Linked DNA regions of Homo sapiens: region 1 is linked to region 2. The links come from fine-mapping of genetic effects on gene expression. A gene starts in region 2. The other region holds a variant in brackets. All regions are shown on one strand. Distances are from middle to middle.

Region 1 (2,930 bases), 35 kb before region 2:
GGGTTATTCAATAGGATTTCGTTGTCCCAGTGGGAAATTCTATTTTATACCCTGTTATTTCACAGACAATAATCCTGTTGAGATCAATGTACTACCAGCACAGGAAATTACAGATAGGAACTTGAATTATAAGTTCACCCCATGACAAAAATGAATTGCTTTCATTTTTTTATGTAGTCTGTTTCTAGACACTACATCCAATTGTTGCTGAAATGGCCGTGAGAGTTGTAATGGTAATATATTGAAACTTGAATGTGTCTCTAGTTTATGTGCTTTGTTTGTATTATCATTTTAATTTCTGTGATTAATTGATTTAATATTTTTAAGCCATAAAAATATATGCTTGGTGTGCTTTGAAAAACAAATATTTAAAATATGCCTCCATTTCTTTTGTCAAAGTGCGTGTAATCTGTTTGATTTTGCCAAGGTGGTGAATAAGCCACTCTGGCCAGACCAGTGTATATCCAAATTAGGAGGACGTAAGTAGTTATGTGACATTAGGGATGTGCTAGTTCTGACAACACACAGAATACAGACACAGAAAGTACATCTTAGTTTGTAATAGAGCCCCAAGGAGCTCTGACAAAATTGACAAAATGAGGCTTTGTTGAAGTAAGGGAAATCATTCAGCTAATGCAAATAAGTTAAATTTAAGTAGGAAGGAATATGCATGTACACATACATATGTAATATTAGACATTCAGAATTTTCATTAATATGCTTTTATTTTAATAAACATTGGATTCTATTTAGAAAGGAGAACCAATCCCATGGGAAATCCTGATCAAGTGCTGGATATTGAGTGGTGAACAGCATACAATGCCCACTTATAAGGTGCTTTATAAAACAGGTAAGCAAACAAGCTGTCATACTTGGTTAGTTTTTCTGAAATCAAATTTTGGGAGGAACAAAACTACACATTTTGTCCTGGAGAAGACAAGGAAGGCTTTCTAGGGCCACAATATGTAAGGACCAGAAATGCAGGTATAGTGGGGTTGGGGGGTAGATGGCGTTGGGTGTCACTGGGAAGAAAGGCCAAATGTCTAATTCCACATTCTCTCTGCTCTTGGCACCCAAGGTCCTTCTTATCTTCTGTCTTCTAAATAGTTTTTCCTACAACTTGCCTCAACATCTCTTTTTTCTTCACACTGTAAGGTTGTTGTAACACCAATAGCAGTCTCACTTCCAAAATTACAGTTTTATGCATTTGATTATTTGAATACTTCCTCCTTTTTTCTTACCTTCAAATTCAGTAAAATCTACACTCTTTTGGCCATCGTGTTAGTTTTCTATTGCTGTGTAACAAGATATCACAAACATAATGTCTTAAAACTACACCTATCATTGAGTTCCTAGACCATAGATCAGAAATCCAGGCAGGCTCAACTCTCTTCTCTGTTTACCATCTCACAAGGCAGAAATCAATGTGCGAGTCAGGATGAGCTCTCTCAGGAGACTCAGGGAACAATACATTCCCAAACTCATGTAGATTTTTGGAAGAACTCAGCTCCTAGTTGGTGTAGGCCTAAGGTCCTC[CT/C]TTCCTCCTGACTGTTAGATAGCGGCCAATCTCAGCTCCTGGAGGCTGTGCACATTCCTCATAACATGTTTTTCCAAGCCTATTATGGTGCATGAAATCCTTCTCGTCCTTGGAATCTCTCAAACTTCTACATCCTCAGAGAAAACTCTGCTTTTAAAGGACTCATGAAGTTAACTTAAGCCCACCTGGACAATCTTTCTATCTTAAAAGTCAATGGCTCACCAACCTTAATTACATCTTCAAAATCTTTTTTGTCATTTAACACAACCATAGCACCAGAGTAACTCAAGGAGACCATCTTGAGAATCTACCTACCACATTCAAGTGAATTTTTCCATGTTCATATTCCATTTTTAATCCTCATTTCCTCTCCTCCCAACTTAGGTTTTTCATCATCAATATACTCAGTACAACCATTTCCTTACAAATACTTTCCGTTATCTTGCTTCTCTCTTGTGTGCATACTAGCCTGGCAAAACTGTAACTCAAATAATTGTATACCTCAGTCTACTTTACCCCCATACTGGATCAACTGAATGTGAATGTATTTTTTTAAATGCAAGCATAATGAATGGACTCATCTTTATTTTTTAATCACACGTATCAACTAAGTCCTCAGTACTGTCCAGCAATCCCTTTACATTTCTTTAGTAAGTTTGCTTTTCCCCTTTTTGAGTACATGATTTCAAAACTTCCTCTTTCTCCATATGCATTTAGTCTTTTCCCTTTGTCATGTTTTTCCAAAGAACTGCCTTTTTACATCATTAAGAAATAAAGCAATATAATGAAAACTTTGATCTGCCTTATCTGACCACCATAAATCTACTGATCTCTATACTCTTTGCCATAACCTCTTGCCTACTCAAAGATTTTGCTCTAGCAATTCATTCTTTTCTGATGATAACTGCATCATCAGTTTCTGCCTCACATCTACGTACAGACATCATCTCATCTTAAATTCAAAACAGGCCTTCTATTTCTTCCATTGCTGCCTGCTGTCTCTGCTCCCCTCAACAACAAATCTTCTTGCTAAAGCCACCCACACTCTTCCCCCACATTCTTTCTTGAACACACTCCAATCAAACACCCCAGTGCTCCATCAAACCTGCTTCTTTTCAGTGTTCACAGGACTTTCACTTTACCACGTCCAACAGCCAATCTTCGATTTCCATCTTGTTCTGACTCCATGTTGCTACAGTAGAAATTGTTTTCCACTCGTACTTCGTGACTCTTGACAATCTCCGTGGGACCATCCTATCCATCTAGGGAATCCCATTCTTCAGGAGGCTTAGTCCTGAGACCTCTCTTTGTTATTGTCAGTCTTTCTTTTGGTGATTTCATCTCTTTCCTTCTATACACTGATGAAACTGTCAACCAAAGATAATTTTAAGTG
Region 2 (2,930 bases):
TTTGGAGAGGGTGCGGCCCTACTTTCACCTGGATTTCAGACTTCAGACTTCCAGAACCATGAAGGAATAAGCTCTCTTTGTTTCAAAACCACTCAGTCAAGGCACTTTGTTACAACAGCCTAGGAAACTAATACAGGAATTGGTATTAGTAAAATCATTATTGTTGGCTCATATGACCATACTCATAGAACTTTTAAGATAATATGTAAATAAGCAACTAAAACAAAAAGTCAGAAAGCTTTATGGTGCCAGATCAATATACAAATAAATATCATTATTTTCCAATAAAAACAATTATATAATGTAACAATAATAAAGTAATAATACAAAGAAACTTCCCATAATAGCTACCAAAAATTCTAAAGTAGTTATAACTAGTTTTTAAAAATAATATGTTCAGAAATTTTATATAAACAAATATAAATTTTAAGTTAAAAAGAAAAAGAAATGGATAAATACATCATTAATGAAGTTTCAATCAAAATTCATACATGAATATTTCACAGAATTTGACAAGTATATCTAAAAATTATTTTAAAGGAGTAAAACGAGCTTGGAATTATTTGAAGAAGAAAGTATTTATCCTTTTGTATATTAAGAGTTAGCCTAAGTCTCCCGGGACTCAATGGTATCACCTCTCTAACAAAAAAGGTCACAGAGATATGAAAACACATCATAAAAAAATCTATCGTTTTATCACACAATGATTTGATCACCTGTGCACATGGAAACAACCTTATTTTAAATCCTTGTTTAGAGTCAATTTTAAGGGATAATGTTGCATGTGAAGCTCCATAATCATTCTTTTGTGTTAAGTGGTTGAGGAAAATATCAGGCTGGTGAGATGTTAATTATAGGTCCAGGGAATAACTTGAGTTAATAAATCAGAGATGAGTCCAAAGTTCTGTAAACAAGTTTCAACATTTCTGGGCACCTGAGATTAAGCACAGCTCTGAGAAGTGCTCCACACGTTCCTAAGTATATGATGCAAGTTTTACTTTGGCAAGAAAATGTAACTATATCTAGTACCCACCTTAGGAACATGAATGACGAAATGGAGATTTCACATTTGCCAGATGAATAGGACTAATGTAGAAAAACAAATCAAACTGTCCTTTACTCTCAGTCAACCCCCTTCTCAATAACAAAAACATCCACATATCCACATTGTCCATCTATTTTAAGGTCAATATAGTATGGATATTATACCAACTTGCAAAAATAAATTAAACCACTTACCACAGGTATCCTCCAACATCATTGGCACCATTAAATAACATTCATTCAGAACTACTTTTAGTGAATGTAGATACTTAATGTTTACAGACGAGGAAATCTGAATGGTACGAAACAAACAGAGACTTGTTCAAGGTCTCACACTGACTCAGCAGCAAAGTCCACATAGGAAGTGAATGTTCCTGAAGTAGCACATTTTGTTTGGACTACAAGACCAACTGAGTTATTATCTTTATTTGAAAATGATTCATGCAAGTCTGCCACAGATGAAGGCAAGCTGTGGAATTCTTACTCAAACTCTTTGTTGTTATTATGGGAAAGCTTCAAGTCTGGGGTTTTTTGTTTGTTTGTTTAATACCTCATATTTGTTATCCGAAAAAAACAAACAGCGTTCATTCACCTGTCAAGCAACAAACGACTCTCCACGAGAATGCAGATTTTGATCAATAGGAGTTTTATTACTTGGCTCAAGTAAGGGGAGCACTGGGTGTATTCTCCAAAGCAGTGTCTCCCTGAGGGAAAGTGGCAGGAGGGTTTTATGGGGTGATGGAGAGGGGAGAGGGTGCATTATCGCATGTAGATGAGGGGTCCCAGCGGTGCAGACACAGTGTCATCATGGCAACACATGGGTTACATGTTATGATAACGGAACTACAGTTCCTCCAGGATGGAGACGTTACAGTCATGAGGAAGATTCACCAGGGTTCATCTCTAAGTTGCCAGGGTCTGTCAGGAGCTGGTTTCAACCAACTAGGTTACTATAGTCCACCCAGGGTTTAGGGAAGAACAGGCTGCAGGGCAGGAAGCTGTAAATCAGGCTGATGGCTCACGTGGATTAAACTCCTATGGTTCCTAGAGACCCTCCTTGTCTGCTTATATATCCTAGAACTGAAAAATAAATTGAAAAGTGAAGTGGTTATGGTGGTCGCACTTCTGAATTCTGGTATGCCCCTCCTACCTCCCCCTACTAAGTAAAGAAAGATAAATCAGTCGTCTTAACAGTATTTAAAACAGCCCTTCCCAAAAACTCAATACATGAAACTTTCTTTCTAGTTGATCTTTGTACCAAATGATCTGGCCAATAAAGGAATAAAATCTTTGAGCTCAAATAACCATGAAAATGCAATACCCGATTTTCCTAAATGCACTTCCTAATGTGAAGGCCATTCACAAAAGCAAATATCCACCCCAGATTCTACTGGGTATGAAACATCTCAATGACTGATACTTCATCTTATCACCTGAAAATTAAATAATTTTATTACAAAAAGAATTAGTAGATTATATTGCTAAATCAAGTTTAGCCTAGAGCTGCCTCCTTACATATTTTAAGTTCAGTCTAAACGTTTCTCTGTAGGTAATGAACTGTAACCTCACTGGACGTGTAAACAGACTGTGACCTACCTACTCTTGTGCCAATCATGGAGTTTCAGCCAATCACAGGCGGCCGGCTGTTCAAACCATGTTTAAATAAGGCAAACGCAGAGCTGTAAGCAATCTAGGTGTTTCTGCACCTCTCGTCCATTTTCTGTAAGTCCTTTTTCTGTTCATAAATCTTCTTCCATCACGTGGCTGTGCTGGAGTCTTTGAACCTACCCTGCCTCGGGAGGCTGCCCCAATCAGCAATTTGTTCTTTGCTCAATTAAACTCTATTAATTTAATTTGCCTAAAAATTTTTTAACAATGTTTACTAG

Which allele goes with the higher level. Alleles are on the strand shown, and positions count from the first base shown. SD is a standard deviation of normalised expression in the study named.
With allele CT in place of C in region 1, the expression in subcutaneous fat of the gene that starts at base 1,261 in region 2 is higher (small effect, 0.17 SD a copy in GTEx).

What was found. PIP is the estimated chance that this variant, and not a neighbour inherited with it, causes the effect.
Region 1: its variant is the best candidate, but not a certain one, in a credible set for the expression of MANCR in subcutaneous fat (GTEx, PIP 0.85).

Annotation. Positions count from the first base shown.
Region 1 is chr10:4,641,448-4,644,377 of GRCh38, forward strand. No RefSeq gene overlaps it. Among named protein-coding and RNA genes, the nearest start is that of LINC00705, 13 kb to the right of the region's middle. The variant CT/C (reference allele first, on the strand shown) is at 1,537.
Region 2 is chr10:4,676,810-4,679,739 of GRCh38, forward strand. It overlaps MANCR (mitotically associated long non coding RNA), which reads right to left and starts at 1,261. Exons shown (of 4, transcript NR_024475.1): 1 at 1,240-1,261. LOC105376373 (a long non-coding RNA gene) reads left to right here. Exons shown (of 4, transcript XR_001747338.2): 2 at 1-10; 3 at 2,594-2,766.